Regions from separate parts of the Homo sapiens genome. Here region 1 is linked to region 2. The links come from fine-mapping of genetic effects on gene expression. A gene starts in region 2. The other region holds a variant in brackets. All regions are shown on one strand. Distances are from middle to middle. Region 1 holds the start of SNORA48B (small nucleolar RNA, H/ACA box 48B). Region 2 holds the start of MXRA5 (matrix remodeling associated 5).

What was found. PIP is the estimated chance that this variant, and not a neighbour inherited with it, causes the effect.
Region 1: its variant is the best candidate, but not a certain one, in a credible set for the expression of MXRA5 in fibroblasts (GTEx, PIP 0.90).

The regions. Positions count from the first base shown.
Region 1 is chrX:3,522,803-3,538,997 of GRCh38, reverse strand. It overlaps SNORA48B (small nucleolar RNA, H/ACA box 48B), which reads left to right and starts at 6,747; the gene lies at 6,747-6,881. RefSeq lists an enhancer at 10,369-11,568. The variant G/C (reference allele first, on the strand shown) is at 7,525.
Region 2 is chrX:3,339,424-3,355,618 of GRCh38, reverse strand. MXRA5 (matrix remodeling associated 5) reads left to right here and starts at 8,967. Exons shown (of 7, transcript NM_015419.4): 1 at 8,967-9,104; 2 at 11,758-11,973. The coding sequence starts at 11,786.

The DNA of each region.
Region 1 (16,195 bases), 180 kb before region 2:
AGTCCAGCCCTCACTTCATGTTTGTGTCATTGTTGAGTGGGGTGATGGGGCTCTACACTGCTCCGGCCGCCTACCCTGATTCTGCTGCTCACTCTAGGCAGTTGAGGCCAAACTTGACCAGCACTACAGCCAAGAAAATGCACCAAATTCTTTGAGTGGTGTTAGATTTCACATGCTGTTTTTCACAATGGAAGTTGGGCTGAACACACGCTTTTATATGTCAACATATAAAACATTAGGCATTTATTTAAAAAGTAGCCATAGAAATGAAAGTATGTATGTACTATCTATTGATCTATCTATCTATCTATCTATCTATCTATCTATCTATCATCTCTCTATATTATCTATCATCTTTCTATCATATCTATCATATGCATTTATCTATCATCTATCTATCATCTAGCTATCGTTATCATCTATCATATCTATCTATTGACTATCATTTATCATCTTCCTATCATATCTATCTACCTGTCATCTATTTGTTTATCATCTATCTGTCAGGCAGTCATCTATTATCTTTCTGTCAGTCATCTATCTAGCTATCATGTCTGTCACCTATCAATCATTTTATGTATTGTCTACATATCATCTCTATCATCTGTTATTGTATTATTCTATTACCTATTAACCTATCATTTTATCTATCATCTATCTACTTACCTTACCTATCATGTATCGTCTGTTAATCTACTATTTTATTATCTATCTTTCTATCATATTATTCTTTTTTTTCTTTTTTCTTTCTTTTTTTTTTTTTAGATGGAGTCTCACTCTGTCACCGAGGCTGGAGTGCAGTGGCACGATCTCAGTTTACTGCAACCTCCACCTCTCAAGTTCAAGCAATTATCCTGCCTCAGCCTCCCGATTAGCTGGGATTACAGGCGTGCGTCACCACACCTGGCTATTTTTTGTAGTTGTATGTGTATTTTTTAAATCTTTTTTTTTTTTGGCTTTAAGGAGCGGAGAGTTTAATAGAAAGAAAGAAGGGAGAAGAAAGATGGAAGAAGCTCCCCTGTGCAGAGACAGAGGGAGGGGGCTCCAAAGCCAAGAGAGGAGACCCCATGTGCCAGGGAAAAGCGGCTGCTTATATTATTTTTTGTATTTTTAGGAGAGACGGGGTTTCGCCATGTTGGCCAGGCTGGTCTTGAACTCCTGATCTCTGGTGATCCGCCCGCCTCAGCCTCCCAAAGTGCTGGGATTCCAGGTGTGAGCCACCATGCCTGGCATATCTATCATATTATAGCGAATATATGACAGCTGTGCTGTAAAGAGGAATGGAAATAGACACAGATTGGCTCACAGATCAGCATCCGAAGTGAATCCTTTTTGTTAAATGCTAAACTATAGATCTTACTAATTATTCAGTCATTCTTTGGATATTTATTTTGCAAACTGAATTTGTAAAATTCTATCTGTGTTACCTTAATTATTCATGTTATGACTCTGACAACTTGCTGTGTTCCTTACCTTGAATTTTAGCCACATTCCAAGAGTTAACTTTACCCTTTCCATGTATACAAGGTTTCTCCACTTCTTATTCTCCTATGCTCAGCACACATTTACTTTGAAGCAAACCCTACCTGCTTAATTTTTTCTTTAAAGTGAAATGTCACTGGTTTATTCACCAAGTAGTCTTCTGAGGGCTAAAGAAAACTACTTCTTTCTTCTTTGTAATATTTTTGTCCACAAGGCATTCTAAACATCAGTCAGTCTGCAACAGTGGTTCTTTCTCTGAACACTCAACATGTTTAAGCACTGTCATATGAACATGGTCACAAATATTATTATGCCATCAAATGGAGGACAATGTAATGCTTTAAGATTTAAATAGGCTTTAAAATCAGCATGGCCAGGTGCAGTGGCTCACACTTGTAATCCCAGCACGTTGGGAGGTTGAGGTGGAAGGACCACATGAGCACAGGAGTTCTAGACCAGCCTGAGCAACATAATCAGACCTCATCTCTACTAAAATGTTTTGAAAAATAAGCAGGGTGTGGTAGTGCACACCGGTTGTCCCAGCTCTTCCGGATGCTGAGGTGGGAGGATCACTTGAGCCTAGGAAGTCACTGCTGCAATGAACTATGACTGCACCACTGCACTCCAGCCTGGACAACAAAGCAAGAACCCAGCTCTATAAACAAACAAATAAATAAATAAATAAATAAATAAATAAATAAAATCCATTACCTGAAACATTCAGATAACAGTCATCAAAACAGTAAATACCTTTTAGAAAAACAAATTCTGTTCTATATAATTAATTAATGTGTTTATTTTGAGACAGGGTCTTGCTCTGTCGCCCTGGCTGAAGTGCAGTGGTGCAGTCGTAGCTCACTCCCGGGCTTAAGCAATCCTCCCACTTCAACCTCCTGAATAGCTGGGACTACAGGTGTGAGCCACTGGGCCTGGCTGACTCTATTATTTTATTGAGAATCCTAAAGTGGTTGCCATGGGCTGCAACGTGGGTCTCCCCTGTCCCTAGATGTTCATGTCCTGATCTCAGAAACCTGTGAATCTTTTACATTACATGGCAAACAGGACTTTCCAGATTAAGGCTCTTGAGAGGGGAGATTATTCTGGATTATTCAGATGAGCTCAGTGTAACACCAAGCTCCTTGGAAGAGGGCAGCAGCAAGGAGTCGAAGACATGCGATGAAGAAAGCAGAGAGAGACAGACAGAGACAGAGAGACAGAGAAAGAGAAGGAAAGACAGACAGAGACAGAGAGGGACACACAGAGACACACACACACACACACACACACACACACACACACAAAGAGAGAGAGACAGAGACACAGAGACAGAGAGAGACAACGAGAGTTGGAAAAACACAAAGACAGAGAGAGACAGAGACAGAGAGACAGGAAGAGACAAAGAGACACAGGGAAAGAGAGACAGAGAGAAAGAGAGACAGAGAATGGGAGACAGAAAGGCAGAGAGAGGGAGACAGAGGCAGAGGCAGAAAGAGAGACAGAGAGAGGCTGAGACAGACAGAGGCACAAGGAGAGATAGAGAAGAGAGAGGCAGAGACAGACAGAGAAGGGGGAAGTGAAGCAACACTCCTGGTTTTGAAGACAGAGGAAGGAGCCATGAGCCAAGGAATGCAGGCAGCCTCTAGAAGTCAGAAAAAAGCAAGAAACGATTTCCCTGGAGCCTCCCAAAGACAGCAGCCCTGCTGACCCATTTTAGATTCTGACCTCCAGGGTGACTGGGGATGTGTGAGGAGAAGGGAGCAAGGGACAGGAGACCCAAACTCCACAGTGAACAATTGGCTTGCTTGGGAGTGAGCCTGCAGAGGAGTGTGCACTGCTTTTCTAGAAGCTGGTGTTCGTGGCTCACAAATCTTCCTTGACCAATCTCTAAGCTGTCATCTCTAAGCTCTCATCAAGTCGGTTATTCCATGGCATTTGGAGCAGAAACTGGCATTTGATAACTGAAGTCCATTCTCTCGCTCGCTCGCTCGCTCGCTCTCTCTTTTTTTTTTTAGACACAGTTTCACTCTCATCGCCCAGGCTGAAGTGCAGTGGCGCAATCTTGGCTCACTGCAAGCTCCGTCTCCTGGGCTCAAGTGATTCTCCTGCCTCAGCCTCCCAAGTAGCTGGGTCTACAGGTACCTGCCACCACACCCAGCTAATTTTTTTGTAGTTTTTGTAGAGACAGGGTTTTGCCATGTTGCCCAGGCTGATCTTGAACTCCTGGCCTCAAGTGATCCTCCCGCTTCAGCCTCCCAAAGTGTTGGGATTACAAGCCTGCCCTGAAGTCCTTTCTCAAGTGAATTCAAATTTGTTTTGAGGTGGTAATGTTCCAAACTTAACGAGCAAACTATAGTTGCTAGCCTCTCATTCAACTAGTTGGGGCCAAGTAACTAAGTTCAATAGGATTGCAGTAGAAATGTCGTGGGACATTTAGGAAGACTGCAGAGAAAGAGCTAATTCACTTGGCGCAGAGGCCATTTTGTTCCTCACTGCTCCCTCATCTGCTTTCTGGGATGTAGATACAATGGCTGGAGCTTCAGCATTCACACTGAGACATGAGGCAAACTTGAAGATGAAAGTCATGTATTAGGGTGGTAGAAGAGATAAAAGGAAGGAATCTAGTTCCTGAGCATCTTGAAGCCAGATTTTTTTTGGAACATTCTTGTTCCAAGTTGTCTGTAGCTTTCAGTTTTGTTGTTTTTACTTTTGCCTTTTCTGAACCTGAGATTCATCTGTTATTAATTCTCTCAAGAACAACTACCTGGTGCATCTTGCTGAAATATGTGGCTGTCAGTGAATACATACTGTCTCCTTTCTAAAAGTCTTACTCAGTTGTGATTTTTATTTCATAGTCACCATGCTTCTCTAGTTTATTTGCTCTAGATAGTGAACTACTAGTGCAAAGTTGTTATTATTGGAAGAAACCAAAATTTCTATGTTTTAACCCCAAATAGGATCATGTAATTCTTAGTTTATTGAACCCTTTGGTAGATGAATGTGAACTTATTCTACTGATGCACCCATCTGTTTGCATGCATGTTTGGAGTCAGGGGTAAATGAAAAGAGATTCTCCTTCTCTTCCTAGAGCTCTTGGTCACGCTGCCCCAGGGACTGAGCATGAGCATGGAAAGTGTGAGAAAATTAGCATTTCCCCAGCACACTTCCCAGTGTTAACTCTTTGTCTTTACCAGGTACCCTTTTTGAGCATTGTTTCCAAGCTAGGAAGAGTGTAAGCTTCCTGTTCCATTACCACTGCAGATGTCTGCTTCATGCCATCTGCTTTACGACATCAGTTATGGATGACTGATCTTCACCTTTGCTGGAGGGTCAGAAAAATTCACAAGCCTCCTAAGATTACAGTAAACAGTAGCAGTAAAGTTAAGCTGTCATTTTGGGCAAGAAATGCCCTCATATGTGTCTAAATATTTTGAGTGCCAGTGCTACTCATCTTCTAGTTCCTCAGTTTGCTGGGAATTGAAGAAAAAGATTTCTTCCTGTTGGAAGAGTGATGATGATATCCCTGCATTGTGAAACTTCAGCCAAATCAGAAAGGTGAAATCAACAGACAAAATTTTACAAGTTGTATATCATAGGCTATTTTCCCCCTAAATTTACTTTTGGGAGACTGTGGAGCCATGGGGGTTTCTGTAGGATGGTGGAATATGAGGCTGGGTTTAAAAAGGCAAATTGAACAGTGAACAGGGTTGCAAGCCTCAAGTTGCTTTATAGAAATGAATGAATGAAGATGGGGTATCCGTCAGAGCCCCACAGGGAGCACATTTCACCCAGGGTGTCCAAGTGTGGAGATGTTAATCAAAGCACTGATTATGAACGAATGGAAAGAAAAGACAGAAAAAGGAGTTCAGATGAGGCTGACCAGAGAGGCTGATTCTAACCTCTGCCTGTAGGGAAGAGGCAGGAAAAGAAAGTTGTGGAATCTTGTGAGAAATATGATTTGGAGGACATGGACTGCGAGTGAGTGAGAGCTTAGAAAGATGTGGAAGCCACTTTGAGCTTGGGAGAACACGTGGGATATTGTCGGCATGGAAGGATGGTGGGGGTCCCTGTGAGCTTGAAGGATATAGGAGGGCCTGTGAGCCTGGTGTGGTACAGGTTGTTTGCAGGATGAAATCAGAGACTTTCTCGTCCTGCTACCTGATAGCTGTTTTCCTCATTTTCTGTTCATATTAGTCCGTTCTCACATTGTTGACGGCTGTCGTGATACCTTGATTCTTGTCTTCCTAGTTTAAAAGAATTTAAACACAGACACACAGCCAAGGAGATGCAGCATAGAGTAAATTATTGCAAAACAAAAAGAGTATTTTGAAAGTCAGCGGGAGACTAGAGAGTACAACCTGAGAAAGTAGATTCAGGGCAGGCAGCTAGTTAGGGTGACAGAGTATTGATTATTGCTGGAGAAACTCCCTTTATGGGAGTCTTACATGATGATTTATAAGGAGGTGGAAAGAGGTGTTGCTGTTAAGCATGTTCTGGGTGGTCCTCTGGGTGCACATGAGCAGTAGCTGTACGTGCTTTTTCATGCATTGCAGGTCTCATTAACATCTTATATCTCTACCCGCAGGTGTGCTTTTTACTATTAAAATGAGCAAAGGGTCAGTTTGAGGACTGGTAACATCAAAATGCGCATGCTCTCTGTAAGGGAAAGTTCCTACTGAAGAATTGTTTTGCTTGAATGAGTTCAATGACAGTGCAAATGCTGAAGCTTACTGTGTTGACTGTATGGTCATGGTAACCATGGTTGCTGCACACAAAGAACACAGTCATTTTCTTGACTACCTATCCTGCCTCAGCAATGCTGAAAAGAAATACCTGAGACTAGATAATTATGAAGAAAAGAGGTTGAATTGGCTCACAGTTCTGCAGGCTGTACAGGAAACATGGCAGCTTCTGCTTCTGGGGAGGCCTCAGGAACTGACAATCATGGTGGAAGGTGAAGGGGGAGCAGGCATCTTAGTGACTGGAGTAGGAAGAAGAGAGAGAAAGGCGTGGGGAGGTGCTACACACTTCTGAACAAGCAAAAGATTTCGTGATCACTCACTCACTATGATGAGAACAGCACTGAGCAGAAGGTGTTAAACCATTCTTGAAGGACCCACCCCTATGATCCAATCACCTCTCTCCAGACCCCACCTCCAAAACTGGGGAATACAATTTGACATGAGATTTGGTGGGAACACAGATCCAAACCCTATCGCTGACTGTCTTTGAGTGCCTTTCTGATTTGTCCTAAGAAGCTCATTTTATTTCCCTGACCTGGGTAGAGTGGCATCCAGTTGGTGGTGCCCATCTCATATCAGCCAGGGACAAAGCAACCCCTTGTTCCTCCCAGCTTGGCTTTTCATCTGTGCCTATGCCTGGTTCATGCCTTGGACACATTTTTTTTTTAAAAAATGTAAAGCTAATTTTAAGGGATAACAGCATGGCAGAAAAAGGGGTAAATAAATGGAGAATTGGACCACCTATGTAGAATAACCAAGGTAGACCTGGGTAAAAAATTAGAGTTTGCATAAGACAATCAATCATGAAGCCACACACACACACACATGTCCCCCACAAGTGAGGATGACACATGAAAAAGTGACTTTTCCAAATCCTTGGGGAAAAATATGATTCAGAATCCCTCTTCAGAAGTCACTGGTTTTTATTGTGGAGTTGTGAAAGGTCAGTCTGTGCTCTGGAAAATCCTGATGTGAGTGGGACTTGTGTTCAGTTTCCCGTTAACCCTTTTTGGGAGTCTGCCTTCTCCTTTAGCAGATTAAGTCTTGTTAATTCCAGGCTCTCTGCTGCAGTAGGGGGTTTGTCTTTCTTGGAAGTAAATCAGCTGGGTTTTCGAACCTGACAATCCATTTGCTGACAGTGCACTATTTATTAATTCTTACTCAAGTGTCAATGGCTACTTAATTATGGCAACAGGCAAACAGCACTGGCATTTTACCAGACCTAATGTCATAATAGTAGAACACCTACTGAGTGGGAATTTTCATTACACCCAGAAGAGCAAGGGGATGCTATTTTATCTAC[G/C]AGTTGGCTGTGAGGAGAAACTGTCTGATTTGCTCTTTTGCAAACAGCATTTGTATCTACTCTCTCCCTTTTTTTCCCACTCCAAATTATTCTCTCCTGGTTTCCCACTCTCTGTCAAATTATCTGATATTAACACCCTTTCCTCCCCTCCCCTGTCCTCCCCTCCCCTCCTCTCCTCTCCTCTTTTCCTTTCCTTTCGACAGGATTTTCCTCTGTAACCGAGGCTGGAGTGCAGTGACACATTCATAGCTCACTGCAGCCTCCAACTCCTGGATATATATATTACATATATGACAGTCATTCCTTAAAGATATAATGAATCTGCCCTATACTAATGTACCATTTTTTATTTTATATACCATATTTTTACTGTATATTTTAATGTTTGGATGAGTTTAGATACAGAAATATTTACCATTGTGTTACAATTGTCTACAGTATTCAGTACAGTAACCTGCTATACAGGTTTGTGGCCCAGGAGCCACAGGCTAGACCATATAGCCTAGGTGTGTAGTAGGCTAGACCATCTAGGCTTGTGAAAGTGCATTCTGTGATGTTCACACGATGAGGAAATCACCTAAGGACATAGTTATCAGAATGTATCTCTGTTGTGAAGTGACACATGACTATAGCCTTTGCCACTACTATGGTCTGAATGTTCATGTATTCTCCAAATTTATCCTAACTCCCAAGGTTATAGTATTAGAAATTGGGGCTTTGGGGAGGTGATAAGGTCATAGGGGTGGAGCCCCATAAATGAAATCAGTGCCCTTATAAAAGGGACCCCAGAGAGCTCCCTCACCCCTTCCACTATGTGAGGACATAGCAAGAAGGTGCCATCTACGTACCAGGAAGGAAGTCCACACCAGACACTAAATCTGCCATGTCTTGATCTTGGACTTCCAGAGTCCAGAACTGTGAGCGACAAATATCTGCTGTTTATAAGCCACTCAGTATACTGTATTTTGTTATGGAAGCCCAAGCTGACCAAGACAGTTACAGACTGAGATCTGAGAAATCCCATGGTTTTGTGCGTGAAAAAAAAATTAGAGATAGGACCGGTGGAGGTTTTTTCTTGGAATTTAGTCTAATTTGAGTTCCATTCCAGAGGCCATTTCTTACTGTGATTGGAAACGTCTGGTAGCCTGTGTTCTCTTTCTTTGTATTCCTGCTCTGATCTTATCTTCTAGTCTCCAATCAGGAAGTTTAATCTTGACAGGCACTGACAGAAATAAAGAATGTGACCATTTCCTCCAGGGTAACCGTGTGTTTTAAGTTCTCTGAAAAAAACTAGCATGCACAATTTTGTACATTCTTATTTTTTAAATAAAACCATCTACTTTCAAAGAATAACATGCTATGGATGGAGAAGTCTCTTCACTGCATGGTCTGACTTTTGTTTACTGTAATTTGGTGATTCGATGATAATCAGAGAGGAATCAGAGCATTGATATACCTGCTGGGGACATTAAAATGGGATTGAGACAGAGTTAATTCCCAACTGGGGAACAATGATGCAATGTGTGAGAACCATGCCTGTCTACAACAGCTCTTGGGCTTAGGAAAATCTGCACATAATTTCTTGTAGAAACGGCTGCCTAAGGGCGGTAGGCTGTTGAGGTCTGCAGTTTGTCTGGTCTTCTTCTGACAGTTTATAACAGATTTTTTCTTAGCATATACTGCTTGCACACCCGCATTTGGGTAGGCAGATGTCTGCAGGTGGAAGGTGACATTTTGCTTAAAGGATACTGTGCAAACAGTGCCTCATCTTGCATACAGCCAGGAAATATATATCTGTAACTGTGACCACATGTGTATGTTATTTAGTGATGTCATGAAAGAGTTGCTTATGCTGTAGTCAGAAAAAAACGGGTGAGGTTAACGGGCTTGGGGAATTTTAATCTTGGACAGCCTAACACTTTGGTGAACATAAAGGCAGTCTGGATAACCCATTGAGACTATATATTTTTTGTTGCAGAAAAGCATCTATATGCTTGAAATACACATCTTTGTTACACATATGGAGAATGTGAAGGCTTTCTTTCTTCCCAAGCATGTACAGCTAAGGCTACGTTTTCTAAATCCCAGATAAATTGAGTGCAAAAAACTCCAGTAGTAAGAAATGCCACTAAAGGAACAAGACACGTCCTCTACAGCATATGCTATGTTCTTCTTCTGCTTAGTCTTGCTAAAGCAAATAATTTTAATTCACAGGTGGATAGTCTCGAAGGTATCTTCTTTGTTTATAGACTGAGGTTTACAGAAACTAAACAAATGTAAACATTGTTGTTATCTACAAATAAAATCAAAGATGATAAATTCAGATTAACTGTAATTATCTGGATGTTTTATGCCAAAATGTCTTTCTTTTGAAACAACCCAACATCAGAAAGCAAAGCATGAACTATAATTAGATTATCTCAGTATAGACCTAGTTTCCCATTTTACTGGCACTGTACTAAGTTGTCTAATAGGTGAATTACTCATGATATGCTGGGTTTGATTTTTTATCTTTTCAGGATAGAATTATAATGTTTTTTTAAATTTTTATTTTTATTCTATTTTATTTTTTGAGATGAGGTCTTGCTATGTCGCCCAGGCTGGTCTTGAACTCCTGGGCTCAAGCAATCCTCCCACCTTGGCATCCCAAAGTGCTGGGATTACTGGTGTGAGCCACCATGCCCGGCCTACAATGATTTTTTTAAAGTCCATCAAACTGTATTTGCATTCTTTTGTTCCCCTCAAAATATTAGATGGAATATTGCATAATATATCTAACTTTTTAAAAGAAGTCATTTAAAACTCAATAGTGTAAATCTGACAGTGTTTGAGCTGGCTCAAAGTTTTGCATTAAATAGAAAACAGCCCGACACACACTCCAAACATCTTACATTAGGGTTTCAAGGGATAGAAGCAAGAGTTGACCCAACTGTGTTTGAAAATTTCCAGAATCTCTTATCGCAAAGGTATGCCGCTTTGATGTTTTGACAATTCTGATGGCGAGATGCTTTCTAGTAGGTTGATTTATGATTGGGCTGTTCTCTCAGCTCCATCTCCTCAACTCGGGGAGTTTTCCAGGCTTCTCTTAGTTTCTGCCTTCCAGTCATAGCCTGGAAATGCTCTCAAGGCAGTGAGCTGGGGCCACCATAGGTCTCACTTTGTTTTTCTGCTTCTAGAGAATCACCGTCCTTTTTTTTTTTTCTCTTTTGAAAATTTATTTATTTTCCCTTTATTTTAAAAATTAATCTTCTTTTGAGAATCACTATCCTTAACTGCCTGGTATCCAGTCTTGAAAATAGTTCTCCCTTAAATGGTTGACTCTTTACTTTTTGGTCATTTGAGGCTGGAGGGAAAACTCTGTTTTTGTTACTCCATCTTGACCGGAAGCATAAGTATGGTGGCCGGCTTACACTGGTTTGCCTGTGGTTTTCTTGGTTTTAGCTTGAATGTCCACATCCCAGGGTGTGTTCAGCACTGAACCCCTAAGTTCTGAGTCAACTAGATGGTTGGCCACCCTCGGTGGATGTCCAGATAACATTCTTGCACTCTACTTCCTTGATCTCTCTGGTTTTCTAGTAATGGTAGACAGTCCAAGTTATTCTGTTTCTTTGTTAAACTTATATAAAATGCATGCTATTCCTAATGTCTGAGAGCTAAAAGTGCTGTCTTTATTCAATGGACATCCTTATTAAGTTTATAATTTTTTACGGTTTGTGAACTGAAAAAAATGACACCTAAGAAGTGACCAATTAAGTAACATGAAACTGTGTGTGTGTGTCTGTACATATTATTATATATATAAACGACATCAGACAAATCTGGCTCAACTTTCATGTAGCAAAATTGTGATTTGTTCTTCAGTTGCCATGAACCCCCACATTGAGGATCATGTAACCTGAATGTGCCCAGATGAACCAAGCATGCAACTTGAGAGAAAGCTAACTGAGGAGCAGGGACTGAACTAAGAAGCAGACACCACGTGTCAAGATTCAGGATCCAATCAGATTGAACCCTGTTGTCACCCTATGGCAAGATCCAATCAGATCATGCCTCATGGCATCACTTCATTGCAAGGTCCAATTAGATCTTGTCTAATTACCTTGTGCTTATAAAACCTGACCCAAAGCCCAGCTCACAGAGACAGATTTGAGCATTACCTCCTGTCTCTTTGCCAGCTGACTCACGATAAAGCTTTTCTTTTGTCAAAAGCCAGTGTCATGGTATTAGTCTCTATGTGCATTGAGCAGCGAGCTCATTGATTGTTTGGTCATCTATAGCTCTATCTATAGCTATAGATACTCATCTACAGAAACATCAGGCCTATGTAATGATAGTAATGATGCCAAACATGTGCTATAAGACCATAAGGTCTTTACGGGTTCTCTGATCACCATAATCCAATATAAAATGTTCTTTTTTGAAGTTGAGCAGAAAGAGAGATGAGCAGAAATCACTTAGTGGGTTGAGGAGAGTAATGCAAAAGATATTTGGAGAGTAGGAGGAGGAAGTGGGCTGGATAAACACAGTAGGGACTACATGTTGGCCGCTTCCATAGAGACTGTTTCTGAGGTGAATGCACTCATGCCAGGAAACAAAAATAAAGAGATATTTTAGTTTATGAGTGTATCTACTTTCCTAATGTGCAGCTGTTTATTAACATTAATGGATGTCTGGGTTTTTCTTCACTCCATCCAAATTTAAAGCTTCATAGAATCCTAAACTTCAGTGTTGGAAGCAGCCCTAAACCCAATCACCCCACTTCTTTCAAGCAGAGCTCTTATCCAGGATTAGAAATCAAAATCCCAGGGAGAACATTATCAAAATTCATGCACCCTATCCTTTTTCAGTAGGTCTGGGGGAGGGGAGAAAATCTTAACTACCTAGTAAAAAAAATTCCCAGATGGATCTTCCTGATGTGTACCCTTAAAGAGTCACCATTATATGGCAAAAGAGTACCTTAAAAATAGTTGCATTTTCCACTTGATCATGCCCAACAATTATGTGAATGAGAAAATGACATATTTTGCAACTAACCAGCCAAGCTGAAAAGATTTTTTCCTTCTGTATGTTCATTAGCAAATTGGGACAATTTAACTCGCATCCTAGCCAATTTCTGCAGAAGCCGGGGCTGCGTGTCTTTAGCTGGTTTGCAATGATACAAGCAGCTGTATCTCCACTGGATGGAATGTACTGTCTAACACGTGGCATGCAAAACAGGATATGAGAGCATTTTGGCAAGCAAAGGGACTCAGCTTTAAGGAGCTCTGGGGCCTTTCAGCATCCACTCTGCCCCCACTACCTGCTGACAACTCACATCGATGCCTGGATGTATGGATCTTGCTGAAAAATCAAAATGTAACTGGGAAATAGAAATGCAGAGATTCAATATTGTGCAAGGTAGGAGGAAGGCAGGAAGGAGACTTGCCAATAAGATAAATGTTGAATGAATAACTGTAGATAATCTGCCTATGGTTGGGCTGATAGTAGAAAGTATGAAGGAAGTTTGCTTAGACTGATTCCTCAACCTGACATTGAAGCAAGCGCATGGTGGCATTCATGGGTGGAATGGTGTTGAAAACAAGTCAAACACAGAGCAAACTTGTCCTGTCTCTACTTGGGTTCATACCCTTTCCCTTTGCAAAACTGAGCTGTGGTTCTTCAATTCTTTCCAGACTTACCCTTCTGTGGAACAAGGTTTTGTGTCTAATCCATTATGGGGAGAGTGACCTTAACATTTTTATCTTTCTCCCTTTTTCCTTACTCTTTCTCCTCTTCTTCCTTCTCTTTCCTCCTCTACCTTCATCTCCTGCTTTTCCTCTTTTCCTTCTCCCTTTTCTCCTCCTCCTTATTCTTCAGGGCTTACCCTTTGTGTTAATGCCCAAACAATATGATTTGAGTCTAACTTAGACACTGGGGAAAAGTTTATTCCTTGTGGGTGCCTTCACTAGTACTTATGATATCAATACACAGCATCCAAAATATGACATAAGCCTCTACCTTAATTCTCCAAATGCAGTTAAATCTAGGTGGTGACATATACCGCAATCTTAATGCGTTGGCTAATGACGGGCAGAACAAGCCAAAAAGAAAAGAAAAGGAGAGAACCTTAATTTGGAAACTGCCAATGACAACTTTTATGGTCCATTGCCATAATCCCCGCTGGTAGGTTCTTGAAGGCACTCTTGATATGATACAATGAACGTGGCATTTTACTTCCGTGGTTTTCCTCACCAAAACCTGTAAGCCCAGTCTGATCATGAAAAAAAAAAAAAAAAACTGACAGATCCTAACTGAGGGATATCCTAGAAAATACTTGCCAAGTGTCTTCAATACTGTCAAGGTCATCAAAAACAAGGAATGTCTAAGAAAATGTCTCATCCAAGAGGAGCATAAAGAGATGTCATAACTAAATGTAACGTAAGATCTTGGAAGATGCTGGAACAGAAAGAGGATATTGGGGAAAACCAAAGAGACCTAAATAAAGTAGAAAATTTAGATGATGATGATGGCGATGGTGATGGTGATGGTGATGGTGATGATGGTGTTGGTGATGATAGTCATGATGATGGTGATGACCATGATGGTGACGGTGATGGTGGTGATGGTGATGGTGATGGTGGTGATGGTGATGGTGGTGGTGATGGTGATGGTGGTGATGGTGATGGTGATGGTGGTGATGGTGATGATGATGGTGGTGGTGGTGATGGTGATGGTGGTGGTGGTGGTGATGGTGATGGTGGTGATGGTGATGGTGATGGTGGTGATGGTGGTGGTGATGATGGTGATGGTGATGGTGGTGGTGGTGATGGTGGTGGTGGTGATGGTGGTGGTGGTGATGGTGATGGTGGTGGTGGTGATGGTGGTAGTGGTGATAGTGATGGTGATGGTGGTGGTGATGGTGGTGATGGTGATGGTGGTGATGGTGGTGATGGTGATGGTGATGGTGGTGGTGATGGTGATGGTGGTGATGGTGATGGTGATGGTGGTGATGGTGATGGTGATGATGGTGTTGGTGATGATAGTCATGATGATGGTGATGGTGATGGTGATGATGATGGTGAAGGTGATGATGATGATGGTGATATAAGCTTCCAATGAGAGATAAATTTGTTTCTAAGTATAGGTCCGATGTGGCTTAGTAGGTACACAGGAAAGTCTTTTCAGGGAACCTAGCTCTCATTGCTGTCTTTGCTATACCAAAGAGTGTTATACATGCTCAGCAAACAATATCTACAGGAACTAGCCCTCAGGAAAGTAAAAAAAAAAAAAAAAAAGGGCAGCAGAGGGCCAGCCCATTCTTCTCATAGCTCACTGATACACTTGGTCACATTCTGCCACTACCTGCAAGGGAGGCTGCGGAAAGGTATCCCTACAGAGGCAGACGTGCCCAGCAAAAACTTTGGCCGGTGGGGGGACACTCCATGACAAAAAATACAAAGGAGAGAATGGGAGTTACCAGTGTCTGTCTTAGCCTTCAGAGAGATGATGATTTGAACCAGGAAAACAGCAGAGGGACTAAGGAGAAAGGGAAAGATTGGAGAGGGAAGTTATCCACAGACTTGGTGGAACATTTTGCCAGGTCTGATGTGAGGATAACGATTGGACATGGAAGCTAAAAAATGTGGCCATGATTTCTCATTTGGATAAACAGATAGTGACTCCTTGAGATATGACATGTAATGGTGGTGCAGTGGGGATGAAGGGAATGCTATGGTTTGAAGGTTTTTGTCCCCTCCAAAATGCATGTGTTGGATACATAACTTCCAATGCAACAGTTTTGGGAGGCGGAGACTAATGGGAGGTGTTTAGGTCATGAGGGCTCCACCTCATGAGTGCATTAAAGCAGCCAGAAGAAGAGCTTGGGTGGGAGTGGGTTCTCCTCTCTCTCTCTTCCTCTGTCTCTCCCCACAACAAGCCCCCATGTTCCTTTGCTACACGAAGACACAACCTTTCTCCCCTCTGGAAGGCCCAGCATTCAAGGCAGCATTCTGTAGACTCTAGGAGAATAAGTCCTGACCCATGGTACCTTGTTTTTGGACTTCCCAGACTCCAGAACTGTGAGAGAATAAATTTCTTTGCTTCATAAGTTAACCAGTCTGTGGTAATTTGTGATGCAGCATAAAATTGACTAAGATGAGGTGAGGGGCTAAGAAATATGAGTTTGAGTTAAATAGAGGCATCCAAGTAAACAAATTCAGTAGATCAATGACAATTTGAGTCTCACCAGGGAAAGGCTAAAGACCCGGGGAGCCATGTGTGTATGGGAGATATTTAATGGAGCAGAAGTAGATGAGGTCTCAGAGAAAAAGAAAGGGACCAAGTGTAAACTCTTACAAATATGGGTATGTGGAGGAGAGAAAACAATAAAATATAATGATAGATATGGGAAGTATGAGCGCTACCAGGAAGAGGAAAGGAGGACACTGTGGAAACCAGGGGAGGTTTCAGAATAAATTTCAGAAGAGAGAGACAAGGCAGAAGCCCAAAGAAGATAAACTCTTGAGAATGAGTTCCTGGGTTGGAAATGAGATCTCAACCATGTTTCCAAGGGCAGCATCACAGAGTAATGAAGACGGCGGGAGCCATAACCCATGGGAGAAAATGAGCGTAGACTATGGGTGAAGATATTTGGTAGTGACGGGAAGAAGAGAGAGTAGACGATAGCTTTTGG
Region 2 (16,195 bases):
AGATAAGATAATATTATATTATTAGATATTAATAATTAATAATTATAATATTATTAAAGATGATATTAATAATTAATAATTATAATATTATTAAAGATGATATTAATAATTATTAAAGATGATATTAATAATTAATCATATCTAATAATTTTCAAAATAAAAGCCCATGGGTAAAATACTCTCCCTTGTAATAAAAATACAATATAACATAATAATAAAAACAAAGCAAAACTTACCTTCATGTGTTGGTTCTTGCTTCTTTCCTCTAGTTCCTTACCAGAGGAGTAGTGGATTTGGTAATTTAAGAAGTGTCAAATCTTCCCTTCAGCAACCACATGCCTGTCCAGGGAGTCAGCTCACAAATCACGCATCAATTATAAGAACAGATGGTAGACCCTGTGCAAGAGCTCTGTATGAGTTTCCTGTGGCTGCTAAAACAAATACCAAAAATGCTGGGTGAAAACAACACACATTTATTCGTCTGCAGTTCTAGAAATCAGAAGTCCTAAATGAGTCTCCTGGGGCTAAAATCAAAGTGTCGGCCAGGTTGGTTCCTTCTGGAGGATGCAGGAAAGAATCCATTTCCTTGCAATTTTTACCTCCCAGAGGCTGCCTGCATTCCTCGGCATGTGGTTTCTTCCTTCATCTTCAAAACCAGCAACAACCAGCAGAGACCGTCTCACATCTCATCATTCTAACCTCCATTTCTTCCTCCCTCTTCTACTTTTAAGAGCCCTTGCAATTACATGGGGTCCACTTGGATAACCCAGAATAATCTCCTCATTTTAGGATCAGCTGATGGGCAAACTTCATTTTCCCTCCAACTTTGATTCCCCTATTGCCCTATAAGGTAAAATTTTCATAGCTTCTGGGAAAGAGGATGTAAAAACATTTAGTTAAGGATCTTGAGATGAGATCATCCTGGAGTAGAGTCAACCGTAAATGCAATTACAGGTGTCCTTCTAAGAGACGGAAGAGGAGATGGTACACACACAAAGGAGAAGGCCACGTGGAGACAGAGGCAGAGACTGGAGTGATGCGGCCACAAGCTCAGGAATGCCTGGAGCCCCCAGGAGCTGGGAGAGGCAGGAAGGACCCTCCCCTAGAGCCTCCAGAGAGAGTGCAGCCCTGCCCACACCTTGATCTCAGACTTCTGGCCTCCAGAACTGGGAGAGCATAAATTTCTGTTGTTTTAAGACACTCAGTTAGTGGCGATTTGTGCGGCAGTCCTGGGAAATGCATACAGATTGTGCCCACGTTTGAAGGCTAATTAGGAATCATTACAAAACCACAGTTTCTGTTTAAGCTAGATATTTTCTTTGCCTTTTTCTTCTTTGTAAGGTATTCAGGGCAACATTTAGAAGCCGAATTTTCTCATCCAGGCTTTCTAACGGCTTTGAGTTATTTGTTTCTTTCACTTTATTCATAAGAGAGTTATATTTATATCTTTAAAGAGCGTGTTCCAAAGTGTTTTGATACTTCTTTAAAATACATTAGTGCTCCTTTGAATTTAGTTTGAGTTTTAGTGAATCTCTAAGCTTGTCCACTTACAAACACACACCTATATTTATAATCGAGTAAATCTCAGTATGTTTCAATCTCATGATTATGCAGGGAATCAAAGGTCACTGTGTTTAAGTACTAATTTCCTCTTCTGTATTTTAAGAATAACTTAAAACTTGTTCCATGAGTCACCCCGGGTCTGTTAACTAAGGCGGCTTCTTCTAATTCATGAAAGAGACATCTTACCCAAAGGGAAAGCACTTCACGTGGTGTCCTATAGAATTTTGAGTATTCATCACCTATAGGAGGTCTTTCTGAAATTAATAGTTTCATGCTGAAGGAGAGACCATTTGCCATTTTTATTTTGAAAAGTGAGATGGATCTTGGAATCCATCCACATGTAAGAACAATGTCGTAGGACAGGGGTTTGCAACCTCATGGGCCATGGACTGCTACCAGCCTGTTAGAAACCAGGTTGCACAGCAGGAGGTGAGCAGCAGGCCAGTGAGTGAGGCTTCATCTGTATTTACAGCTGCTTCCCATCCTGAGCTCTACCTCCTGTCAGATCAGCAGCAGCATTAGATTCTTACTGGAGCAGAAACCCTATTGTGAGCTGCACATACGAGGGATCTAGGCTGCAGGCTCCTTATGAGAATCTAATGCCTGATGATTTGTCACTGTCTCTCCCATCACCCCCAGATGGGACTGTCTAGCTGCACAGAACAAGCATGGGGCTCCCATAGATTCTACATCATGGTGAGTTGTAGAATTATTTCATTATATATTACAGTAGAATAATAATATAAATAAAGTGCACAATAAATGTAATGTGCTTGAATCATCCCAAAACCATATGTCCCACCCCCATCCTGCTCTACGGAAAAACTGTCTTCCATGAAATTGGTCCCTGGTGCCAAAAAGATCAGGGACCGCTGCCCTAGGAGATTTCTAGACCATGCCACTTGAGGGCAAGGTCTCCACCAGCCAGTAGTGCTCAGAACTAGTTTCAGTGACATTCTTTCCTTCTTCCTCACAAGCTTCTAGGGCAGCTTCCATGTGGAATCCCCTAGAAGCCATTTGGTTTTTATTCCAAGAGGCCGCTTGTCTGAAAGAAGACAAGTCAGCAAAAATGTAAGCCAAAACAGATGGGAGGAAAAAAAAGAGTCTTGACTCTTTAAATATAGAATTTTTAAAACTAGACTTTATTTTTAGAGCAGTCTGAGCTGCAAAATTGAGCAGAAGGCACAGAAATTTTTATATATCCCTTTCCTACACACACACACACCCCCTCTTCCATGATCAATAGCTCTCAGCAGAGTGAGACATTTGTTACAACAGATGAACTCACACGGAGACATCGAAGTCACCCAAAGTCCGTAGTTTTCATTAGGGTTCCCTCTTGATGTGAACTCCAGAATCGTGAGTATTCATCATTTATAGAACATCTTTCTGAAATGAATAGTTTCATGTTGAAAATGTGCCATTTTTATTTTGAAAAGTGAGATGGGCCGAGTGTGGTGGCTCATGCCTATAACCCCAGCACTTTGGGAGGGCGAGATGGATGGATGACCTGAGGTCAGGAATTTGAGATCAGCCTGGCCAACATGGTGAAACCCCATCTCTACTAAAAATACAAAAATTAGCAAGGCGTGGTGGTGCGCACCTGCAGTGCCAGCTACTCGGGAGTCTGAGGCAGGAGAATCGCTTGAACCCGGGAGGTGGAGGCTGCAGCGTGCCAGGATTCCATCACTGCACTCCAGCCTGGACAACAGAGTGAGACTTCATCCCCCCACAAAAAAGTGAGCTAGGTCTCGATTTCTGCGATTTCTGCTGAATGACCCATCCAGGATTGAGGTCTTTGAAGGGATTCATTAATAATTGCTGACATTCCCTTGCCTTTCCCTGTCTGCAATTCACTGGCCTGTGTGGTCTGGGTTGGGGAGGAAGGGGATAACCTTCCATGATCTCATCTTCTGCAGCTGTTTTCTACCGACTGAAATTTTAGGGATCCAGAGCGGAGAAGCCTGTGTCTGTGAGTTCCACCGTTCTAGGTGCCGCTGGTCCCGGTAAGACACAGTAGTAGATAAACAGCTTTCATTTTGCCGAGAAATCCCCATCAGCACATCTGCCCAAGCTGGGTCAGGCTAGTTCACTTCTCCACGATGTGTTTTCTCTGTAGGTTGATATGCACCATGCTAAGCAGAATTTTCTCCAGCCTAATCTGCAGAGATAACTCAACTGTGCTCAGGAGAGCTAGAGGGTTTCTCTGACGTGTTCTTTGTATTTATTTACTTATTTTCCACGCTGCTGTTCTATTTTAAAGTATGCTGTTGAGAAAATTTGGAAGCATTTTAGTACATGCAAGAGAACAGAGTATTCCTACCGACTGTGCTATGAGGATAAGAAGCAAAACAAAAATACCCCCTCATTTTCATTGAGGTGGCCAGTAGCCCGTATTTTCATTGAAGGTTTACCCTACACAGATGAGGGCAAGTTCCCATGGAAAATTCCTAAAAGTCTGTTTCTGCTCAAATAAAGATACAACCCCACTAGCTATTAGTCTGCCCCTGAGATTTCTGAGCTATGCAAGCCCATGAGTTTGAAGTAGAGATTTCCTGTGTCGATTTTTTTTTTTCCCTCCAGTCATCCAAGGGTATTCACTAGGTCAGCCCTTCTCGTGATTACAGAGTTTGGGAAGCAGTGGGGTTTGCAGTCATGTGACTAAGAAAGTTACTTTTACAACCCTTGTTAAGAAAATTACATAGTGATCCACAGAGTCCTTTAGAATATTAGACTTTCACATTGAAATCAGAATCGCCAGGAACTGCAGTTCATACACAAAACAGCCAGTGCACCTCCAGAGACTCTGCGCTGGGGTAAAACCTGGATAGGAAGATAAAAGACACAGCAATAAAGCTGAAAAAAATGACTGTAGATTCGCTGGATCCTATATATAAATATTAACTACAGATGTGGTGCAGGTAGTATGTTCAGTTCTCTCTATACAGCATTGCATTCTGTCTTTACGCCACCTCCAAGAGGTAAAATTACCCTTATTGTACCCTTGAGAAATCTGGTTTTAGGAAGGGAGAATAGTGTGTTCTAGGCCCTCTGGCCAAGAAATAGCGAGTAGTAGGAGGAGGTGGTTTGAGCTCTACTATCTGTCTGACTCGATCACCTATGGCTCTGCTGTTGGTTAAAGCCTTGCAAGAAAAGTGGATTTTAAAGATCTTATGACGGAGGCAGAGGGATGATGGCTCCCCAGTGGTAAGGGCCTCCTGGGTCTCCTGGGCTGCAAGTTTCCCTACCTCCACATTTCTAGAGGAAAGGGGGTCTCGATGGAGGATCAGGGTTGCGTGATGGGAAGTGAGCTAGCAAACCTGTTTGGATTTCCTTCTGAATGCTCTATTTTATATATATATATATATATATATATATATATATATTCACAGATGTCTTTTGTAGATCAAAGACAAAACAGGCAAATGTTGATAATAAGGACATGTTGTCAAAATGCTGGTTCAGGAAGAGAAATGCTGCTAACCAGAGGAACAGTGAAAAGCAGTGGCTGGTAAAAGTCACTGGTGCATCCTGCAACAAGCTGCAATCCTTCAGGTTCCATGGCATCTGGCGATTAGGAGGGCTCCGGCCTTTTGTTAATCACTGAGCTTTTGCTTGAAGTACATTCTGTAGCTACAAGGACTGACCTGCCCTTCATTTGATCATCCCTCCTCACCCTCCACATGGTGGAATTATTAGCAAGCAGATGAATTTAATTTAACCGACATGTACTCCAAACCTCTTGTATTTAAGGAACTCTCTTGGCACTTCAAGGGATTCAACAATTAATCAAACATGGTCCCTGCTCTGGGAACACATCACCAAGCAAGCAGGCAACATTAGCAGGACAAACATCAAAACAAAAAAGACTAAATGCAGCAAACTATGCATTTTATTTAAAAAAAGTACAGAATGACGAGATTCCATAATGCTTTATTTGTGGATTTATTGTACAAGTTACGCCCTGGGACTTTTCTAATCTAGGCATTTATTTTTATTAGTATGTGTGTTATTAAAAATAATTTATTGAGGTGAAATTCACATCGTAAAGTAAACCATGTTAAAGTAACAATGTCATGGCATTTCGTACATCCTCAATATTGTGCAACCATCACCTACATGTAGTTCCAAAACGTTTCTGTCACCCTAAGCTAAAACCCTGCTCCCATTCAGCGGTCTCTTTCCGCTGCTCACTCCCCTTCATCCCATGCATGAAATTTGCAAAGCAGAATTGAATTAGTTGACTTGATATTTTATTTACTTCACACTTGTAAGGAATTAAAGCCATTATGTTTGAGTTAACCATCTCATTTCCGTAAACCTGTGCCTTTAACTAGACTTCGATAAATCATTTTTGGGGTGCAGATTGTACAGGTAACACAAGTATTTAGAGGTATTGATAGATATTATCTATTAAATGTGCCAATAATAATCCCCCTGGATAAGGTAGTATAAACAGATTTCCTTACTGCAGAGAAATCCAGACTTTTTTAAATGTTTTTTTTTTTTGAGGCAGGGTCTTGCTCTGTCACTGTGGCTGGAGTGCAGTGGTGCGAACTTGGCTCACTGCAAACTCTGCCTCTCAGGCTCAAGCAATTCTCCCATGTCAGCCCCCAGTATGTAGCTGGAACTACAGGCATATGCCACTATGCCTGGCTAATTTTTTTTTTTTTTTTTTGTAGAGATAGGGTTTTGCCAGGTTGCCTAGGCTGGTCTCAAACTCCTGGACTCAAGCAATCCTCCCGCCTTGGCCTCCCAAAGTGCTGGGATTACAGGCGTGAGCCACTGCGCCTGGCCAAATCTAGACATTTCTTAATAGAATTCAACGTCAGTCATGCGCACATTCATTCATTCATTCATTCAATTGAACGCTTAGTGTATGCTAAGCTCTGTGCTATACTCCAGGTGTCAAGAAGCTATGACGGCATAAAAAGAAGGTGAGTGATTGTCCACAATGCAGGAAAAAAGCCCACTTTAGCAATGGGCATGGAGGTAAGGAAATACTATACAATGGAGATTGAGGAGAACTTTGTCAAAACAGTGGCGTGAACCAACAACAACAAAAATCAGGGATGTGCTACTTGTTCTTGACAAGCCAGATCTATCACCAAAAGGAAGATCCCAGGGACAGGCTGGGAAGCACAGGGCATGGCACAGGCCACCCATGGAAAACTTCAGCCTTGGGTTTGAGGATGATGGCATCCCTCTAAGTCTCAGTGATGGGCTGGAAGGGATGAATGAGAAGGAGTTGGTGGAGGAAGAAGTTGTCAAAATCTAAGACATATCCATGCAACCGCAGTGAGAGAGGTGGAGAGAAGAACACGTTGGGCCAAGAGATTCTTAGGCATCAGGATCTAAACTTGGCAACCAGTTGACTATGAGGAAGACATGAAGGAGAGGCAGAAGGCAAGGATGGCTTGAGTTTCTAGTTTAGCTGACGAGATGGGTGGCAACATCATTAACAAGGGTAAAGAGATGTTCAAGAGACAGTTGTTTTTTGTTTTGTTTTGTTTCGTGATTTAATCAATGGGTTTGGGGCATGCCCAGAAAGAGGCTACCTAAGGGCATTATTTGACTAATCCCTGGAACTATGTCAACACACACTGAAAACTAAAGCTAGAGAAGGAATGAATTCCCATTTATGAACCAGTATTTCCTGACTATCAACTCTGTGGAAGCCACCCTAGGCGCAGGAGGCAGGTGGTGAGGAATTCCTAGACGCTGTGTTTCTTAGGAGGAGCTAAGATGAACCACGCTTCATGCAGGGGAAGCAACTTGTTTCTTAGGCTTAGTCCTTCCTTCCTCCTGAAAGCCCCCTGACAGAGTGCTGGACGTAGGGCAGGACTTCTGAATCTAAAGAGCAGGCACTTCTCAATTATACTTTCTCCATGCATTGCCTTTTAAAAGCTGCATGCCTGCTGGGCTGGGTGGCTCACGCCTGTAATCCCAGCACTTTGGGAGTCCGAGGTGGATGGATCACTTGAGGCTAGGAATTCGAGTCCAGCCTGAGCAACATAGTGAGACCCTGTCCGCACCAAAAAAAAAAAATTAGCCCAGCGTGGTGGCGCAAGCCTCTAGTACCAGCTGCATGGGGGACGGAGGTGGAGAATCGCTTGCGCCTCGGAGGCAGAGGTTACAGTAAGCCGAGATCGCACCACTGGCACTCCAGCCTGGGCAACAGAGCGAGACTCTGTCTCAAATACATAGATACATATATACATACATACACACATACATAAATGCCGCACGCCATCAGCCTGCTTCAGGGGCATCTCAGCAGACAGGATTCGTTGTACAAGTACATGGTACCACTGGGCTTGTAAAAAAAATTTTTTTTATACTCACAGATGTCTTTTGTAGATCAAAGAACACAACAGGCAAACACTGACCCTAAGGACATGTCAAAATGCTGGTTCAGGGAGAGGAATACGGCTAACCAGAGGTATAGCGAAAAGCAGTCGCTGGTGCACCCTACAACAAGCTGGTGCAATGGTGCCTTTCCGGGCCCTACACACCTGTCTGAGCTCCATGTTTTTACCCCAGGTTGGCTCTGCTGACTGAAGATACTCGCCTGACCTCTCCCCACCATTCCAGGTCTGACTTATCCAGGAAGCCAGGCAGCCGCCGCCTCCTCTTCCTCTGCCTCCTGGAATAGGGACCTACCCTCTGCACCCTCTACTTTTTGCCTTGTCGCCAGGTCGCTCCCACCCTCCCACCGCCCCCTCCCCAGACAATACCATCAGACTCTCCGAACGTCCCAACCCTCGCCTTGCCCCTCGAATGCTCCCCAAGCCGGAGGGGAGCCGTTCCACCTTTCTGGCAGGAAGACTCTGGCAAGGGGAGGGAGGCGGGCGCCGGGGAGTCCTGGAGAGGCGGGAGGGCGTGGCGGCGGCTCTCACGTTGCAGCCCTGCCTGCAGCTAGTGGGATGCCGGCGGGGCCAGCCCGCTCCTGCTTGCACACGGTCTGGGAAGAGCTGCCGAGAAAACACCGTCTGGCCCGGAGAAGCGCAAACCCTGCTCCTTCTCTCTCTCCTGAAAGGAACGGAAACGTTCCCAGCGCTGCTTAGGCGCTCTCCAAGCGCGGACTCTACTGCGGCTCCCACCGCGCTCCCTGCATCTCGCCCTTCCCTCCTGGGGTCCTGGACTTCTCTCTGACAAAGAGCCCTCCTTCCCCGAGCCGCCTGCGGTTCTTGCAGCTGGAGTGGGCGAGGCATGCCCACCCGGGCCCAGGCGCAATGAAGACGCGAGAGGAAGGCTGAGCGCAGAGCGGCGCGGCCAGGGTCCCTTGGCTCGGGCCCGCGCCCCGTCTCCCCGGGGTGGGGCAGGGTGGGGGTGTGCCGAGGCGTGGACTTGGGGAAGCCTCGCAGCGCCGGGAATAAAAGGGCGCCGGCTTGCTGTGCCGCGCTGGGAAGCCGAGCTGCCTCACCCCCGGCCCCGGGAAGGGCATGGCCCCGGCAAACTCCCGGCCGTGACTCGCGCGCCCCGGCTCGGTGGATGCTCCCGGCGCACCGCTCCCGTGTGCGGCGGCTTCCCAAGGACAGGTGAGGACCCAGGGTGGCCAGGGCGCCCCAGGGCTGCCGTGTCTGCCTGCAGGGGGTGAAGGGATTTGAGACACCCAAGGGAAACACTGGGGGTAAAGGGCCTGCATGCAGGCAGATTGCACCGTTCCCCAGCACTGTTTGAAGTTGCTAAGAAATCAGGATACCTGAATTCCTGCAATTTTAAGTAGCTAAGGATCAGATAGGGAGGAGAGCCGGATCTTGAAGGAGGATGCACTGAATAGGTCTAATTAAGCCCAGACATCCCATGCCTCCTTTCCTCCCTCTCCCCAAAGCGCTCCCCATCCCTGGCTCTCTCTGGAGACCTTCAACCCCGCCATCCCGCGTTTCTAGGAAGCTGCCAACGGAATTCCTAAGTGAAGCCCACTCTGCTCTTGCAATCGGTGGGGGAAAGGACGCTTGAGGAGCCTCTTTCCAAGTTGCTCAGGCTGTGGCTACTTCAAGTCTCCTCTCCCTCCTCTCTTCCCCCTCTCCTTCCCCGCCTCTTTCCTCCTACTCTTACCCAGGCTTTCCCTGGAAAGGGGACAGCCCAACGCCTAGAGTGATCCGAGCCATGCAAAAAAACCGGGACAGTCATCACGCAGACAAAAGGGGTTTGGTGTCCGAGTCCCGGGCGGCGGGGACTCGCAGGGCCACCCCAGCCGCGTTCCGGGAAAGCTCGTAATTCATCCCGCAGCCAGCTCGACGCGACCCAGCGGACTCTGGAAGCCGGCCAGGGGCTCAGGGCTGCCCGCCCGGCCACTCCAGGTTGTCTGCCCAGGGCCAAGACGAAAGCAGACGGCCTCACGCCCCCACCCCTGCTTCCCGGCGGGGTTCGCAGACCGTCTCTGGCGGCCTAGCTGGCGCCAGGCCGCTTTCTCCGCGGCGGAGAGACCCGACCCCGAGTCCCCGGGATTAGGGTTGTCTGGGGGCGAGTTTCCTGGGTCTCCCGGGAGGTTGGTGCCGGGGTGGGAGGCCGGACAGGGAGTTGGGGCTGAAGAGTCCTATGGAACGCCCGGGCCAAGTCCGCCCGCAGGCACAGGACGCTGGGGACTGGCGCGGCTGCCCTTGGAACCAGCCCAGCGCCGAGGTCAGGCGCGCAGGCAGGGGCGGGGAAAGCCCGGGCTCTGGCGAGAGAGAAAACTCCGAGGACTTTTGCAGAGCTGCAGGAGCCGGTTTGTTCCAGCGCCCAGAGGCGGAGCCCGGACTTGCTTTTTTGCAAAACTACCTGTGCGCCATCAGTTCTTTATGGGCAGCTGAAGGGAGACGCGCCCCCGGGCTTAAGAGAATAACCTTTTCTAGGTCACTTAAAGGCAGGAAAAGCTACAGGTTTGGGATGTTCCTCTCTTATAGGAAGGATTTTAGAATTTTATTTTTATTTTTTGAGACGGAGTTTCGCTCTTGTTGCCCAGGCTGGGGTGCAATGGCTCGATCTCGGTTCACCGGAACCTCTGCCTCCCGGATTCAAGCGAATCTCCTGCCTCAGCCTCCCGAGCAGCTGAGATTATAGGCATGCGCCACCACGCCCAGCTAATTTTGTTTTGTTTGTTTGTTTGTTTGTATTTTTAGTAGAGACGGGGTTTTTCCATGTTGGTCAGGCTGGTCTCGAACTCCTGACCTCAGGTGATCCGCCCGCCTCGGCCTCCCAAAGTGTTGGATGACAGACGTGAGCCACCGAGTCCGGCCTGGGTTTTAGAATTTTAATCAGCAGTTCGCGCTCGTTCAGAACCCGGGCGAATGGGCAGGCGCGTGTTTGTTGTGTATCCCTATTTACTTTCCATGTGTGTCACTATTTTTAAGTGAACGCCATTCAAGAGATGACAAAAATGTTAGATGACATAGGCATTGCCAGGACAAGAAGAAAATGATCACCGCCATTCTAAATGAAGTAGCTGATGCAATCTAGCTTTACCCGAGCTTTTCCATTTTTTAGTGACTCCATTTTTTTCTGTTTGCCTGAATATATTTCATAAGCAGTCCCTTCCTGTTTATTGAATGATCAGAGGTTCCCCCAAACTTCCTCCCCGATTAACAGCAACTCTATATCATCAAAAAAACTCTCTGGCTTTTCCAAGACAAAAACATAAGGATAGTAAATAAACCCAGAAATAACAGGATGAATATCCTTCTAGCAAATACCTCTTTAAGCTCTTCAAGAAGCTAGAATTAAAGGTTTGAAAAATATCATTAAAGGAAAGAATACGAATAAACACTTCTTGGGAAGTTTTAAATTCAAATATATGCAATATATAATGGCTCAGTCTTGTTGGAGGCAGAAACACAATATTTTATTATTTTTTAATTATGGATACATAAATATAAACCTCTTTCTTCTCTCTCTCTCTCTCTCTCTCTCTCTCGTCTCTCTCTGTTTCATAGCCGCAATTACAGAGTGCAAGATAGATTTCCAAATCATAGTATCGAAGCCAAGAATCAAGACTATATTCTATAGTCATGATTAAAGTGAATGGTGAAAAGTTTAGAAAAAAAACCATGTTTCATCTTTCTCAATTCCCATGGTTTAAGCGTCACTACAACACATCGTGTGAAGTCCTGGGAAGCTTGAAACCCTGATGCACAATTCAAATTTAAAAATTGCCCACAGTTCGTCGGTGCTACCTGTGAATAAGCTCATCTCTTCGTTGTTCTACCTCAGGTATCCGAGAATCAGGCACCCCGACAAGATGCCCAAGCGCGCGCACTGGGGGGCCCTCTCCGTGGTGCTGATCCTGCTTTGGGGCCATCCGCGAGTGGCGCTGGCCTGCCCGCATCCTTGTGCCTGCTACGTCCCCAGCGAGGTCCACTGCACGTTCCGATCCCTGGCTTCCGTGCCCGCTGGCATTGCTAAACACGTGGAAAGAATCAATTTGGGGTTTGTACCACTTTCTTCCCGAACCTTCCCACTGTCAGTGCGTGCGTCTTGATCTGGTTTTGCGTGTGTGTATGTGCATTTACTTAACTTCATATGTGCATTTCCTCTGTGTAGCTCTGTCGAGAATTATGGAGCTGCAGATGGGCAGAATAGAGAGAAAAAGTTTTAGTTATGCTAAACGCAGCTTTTTCGATGATTATCTCAATATATCCATCAGCTGCCACTGCTGTAAGGTCTATTAACGAGCAGCATGAACAACTTTAGAGTTTGTTGAGAAATTCCCTTGATAGCATTTCTTTAATACATTGTTGAGGTGAATGCATGAGACACACACTTAAACATATGAAGATGATTTAAGTAGACTTCAGCAACGATTTAAGAATAATAAAAATAAGCAGAACATCTGTGCCATTTTATAAGTCATGTAGATGATAGAATTGCGACTTTGAGGCAATAAAAGAGTTCCTGCAGATTTTGCCTGTTAAAAATATCAACGTCTTTTTAAAAACCTATTTTGATGTGGCTTGCCAGACAGACTTTTAATATACTGGTTTCATTTTATACACACGAGGGTTGTGTGGACCGAAGTGTTAGTTGCTATGAACTACAGGTGCTCAACTGCAATTTTAATAGTCAACAATCATTTGGAGTTCGTCAACAAAATATAATAGCTACTTTTTAGCATCCATCCCCAGAACAACTGATTAAATTAGTGTTTGTGAAATATCCACCATGGAGATGTTTTAGTAAAAATAAAATGGCCAGATTTGAGCCAATGCAAAATAACTGTAAATGTACCTGGACATCTTATAGAACAAAGTTAAAAGAAAAAACTCTCCTCCATTGACAGTGGTAGAAGAAGAGAATGAAACATTGAGATAATAAGATGGAAATTTCTCTATCGACAGTGGTAGAGTCAGGGAATGAAGTGTTGAGGGAGTAAGATGGAAACTTCCCTGTTGACAGTGGTAGAATAAGAGAATGAAACGTTGAGGGAATAAGATGATAATTTCCCTAACCCATGGCAACAGACCATTAAATAGGTTTCTCAATGAAATGCTGTTAGACTTTATGAGTTGACCATCTGAACATCCAACCACAACAATGATAGCTCATTGGGGAAAACAGCTTGGCGTTGGCAGAGGAGGGAATAGTAACACATAAGCCAGCTTCCCTTTTTACAATCTTGTAATTTATCGGACACATTTCTTGTGTAATGGAAGTAAGAAAAAGGGAAGAGGTGCTAAAGCCCATTAGTTTTGTTTATTTATTTATTTACTTAACTTTAAGTTCCAAGATACATGTGCAGAGTGTACAAGTTTGTTACATAGGTATATGTGTGCCCTGGTGGTTTGCTGCACCTATTGACCTATCCTCTATGTTCCCTCCCCTCAACCCCCACCCCCCAGCAGGCCCTGGTGTGCGTTGTTCCCCTCCCTGTGCCCATGTGTTCTCAATGTTCAACTCCCATTTATGAGTGAGAACATGCAGCGTTTGGTTTTCTCTTTCCCTTGTTAGTTCGCTGAGGATGATGGCTTCCAGCTTCATCTATATCTCTGGAAAGGACACGATTTCCTTCCTTTTTATGGCTGCATAGTATTCCATGGTGTATATGTACCACATTTTCTTGGGCATATGGGTTGGTTCCATGTCTGCTAAAGCCCATTTGAATCCTGGGGGAAGGTGCGTGTGATATTTGCAGAACAGAAAGTGGGGCTTTAACTGTAACTTCTTTTTCCTCCACCCTTGGTGTGCAAAATGGCTCTGTCTAGGAATTGTTTTTTATACATGAACCATTTTAACACATGGTCTAACTTGCTGGGATTAGCCACCTCATCTCTCAAACCCAGCACCTTGGCAGGTCCCATGCTGGGGGTACCATCAGCCAGGCCTTGGTGGAGCCCTCTAAAAAGCTTGGGGTTGATGCAGAATGTATATATTTTATATATATTATCTTTATAATATATATAATATATAATGTAAATATACATATTATATAATATATAATATATGTATACTATATTATATATTATATATATTATATATAATAATAATATATATTATATATATTATATATAATAATAATATATATTATATATATTATATATAATAATAATATATATTATATATATTATATATAATAATAATATATATTACATATATTATATATAATAATAATATATATTACATATATTATATATAATAATAATATATATTACATATATTATATATAATAATAATATATATTATATATATTATATATAATAATAATATATATTATATATACATAATATATAGTAATAATATATATAATGTAAATATACATGTTATATATAATATAATATGTATATTATATATATTAATTATATATTATATATAATTCTATTATATATTATATATATAATTATATAATTATATACATTATATATATTATTATATATTATATATAATAATTATATATTATATATATTATGTATATAATATATAATATATAATATATGTATAATATATAATATATTATGTATAATATATTATATTATATTATGTATAACATATTATGTATAATATAATATATTATATAATATATAATATATATTATACACAATATATATTATACATTATATATATCATGTATAATATATATTATACATGATATATAATATATATCTATTATACATAATATATATCTATTTGCGGTGCTTCTTGCACAGCAGGTTTGTGTGTTTGTGTTGTGTGTTGGGAAGGGGGATATCAGGCTGGAAATGAGGGTGGAGACAGTCCCTGCATGCACCCTCCCCAAAGAGGTGATTTGTTTAATGGCTTGAGACTTACAGCACCAACAAGACTATTACTTCTGAAGTTGTTTGCATCTCATTTACAGTTTCTGGGATGCTTTTCTTCCCGTTCATTTTTAAACTGAAGTACTTTGTAAGTGCAAAACATAACTAACCTCTAAATTACAACACCATTTCTGATGGTTTCATTTTAAACAACTCACGATAAAGATTGACTTTAACGTAGGAATAAAACAGACATACCAACATGTTAAAGTTTCTTTTTCCTATTGCTGCCAGTAATATCTAGAGATAGTTTTCTGTAATATTAAAAAGAAAAGAAAAAGTTTAAAACCCTAGAGAATCACTTCACTGCATCAACATCTATTACTTCCATCTGGTTTAATTTGTAACAGGAACTAATATACTACTTGAAAAAAATCACTAATAATATCATAATAGCATTGTTTCAGAAAAATCAATCTCAAATTAGGTAATGAGTCTGGCATCTTGCATTTTGTTGGGGAAAAAACTGAAACAAGAGCAATGTCTAACAGATAAAACTCAGAGATTGATTTGTGTTTTAACAGTCTGGAGAAAATATAAGACTCTCAAGGAATGAGGAATTGTTGGCCAAGTGCTAATGAAACCTTCTATTCCCACACAGCTGTTTTTAGGGTTCTTTGTCAGCATTGCTGTTTCCTGCTTGGACAAACTAAAAGCGTTTCTGAAAATTGCTTTCCAAATATTTTTTTTCAGGAACCAACAACATAGCATCCACCTAGAGATGGATTTACAGACTCTTAAGTATTTTTTTCCCTCTATTAAAAGACTGGTTTTGATGATGCCTTTCTGCAACTTCAACAATGCCCATACTTGCCTATTTTATTTTAAGTTCTGCCTTGTGATATTAACCGGAACCGAAGACATAATTTTGCAAATATTGTCTGCCATAAACATTTCACAGAGTTGGTTATACATTCAGTGATTGCCAATCAATAGGCGATGAAGATAGTCTGGAATGTAAGCCAAGGGGCTAATAAGCCATAGAACTGCACTTTATGCAGGGTCATCCCAGTCTCCAGTTAGATTCTGTTCCCTGAGTGTCGTGCTAATTTCCCAGACTCTGCTGATTTTTAGAAGGATGCAAGAAGGGGACATGTATACCCTTGGGTTCTGAGAGGGGGTACTCAAGTGATTCCCTGGGCTTCTGTATGTTCCAGAATATCCGCCCCATTCTCACATCTGGCACCCTTGGCATCTGCATCTGCAAGCTCTCTAATGCCCCTTAAAAACAAGCAGGGGGGTCCGGGCACGGTGGCTCATGCCTGTAATCCCAGCACTTTGGGAGGCTGAGGCGGGTGGATCACGAGGTCAGGAGATCGAGACCATCCTGGCTAACACGGTGAAAGCCCGTCTCTACTAAAAAATTCAAAAACATTAACTGG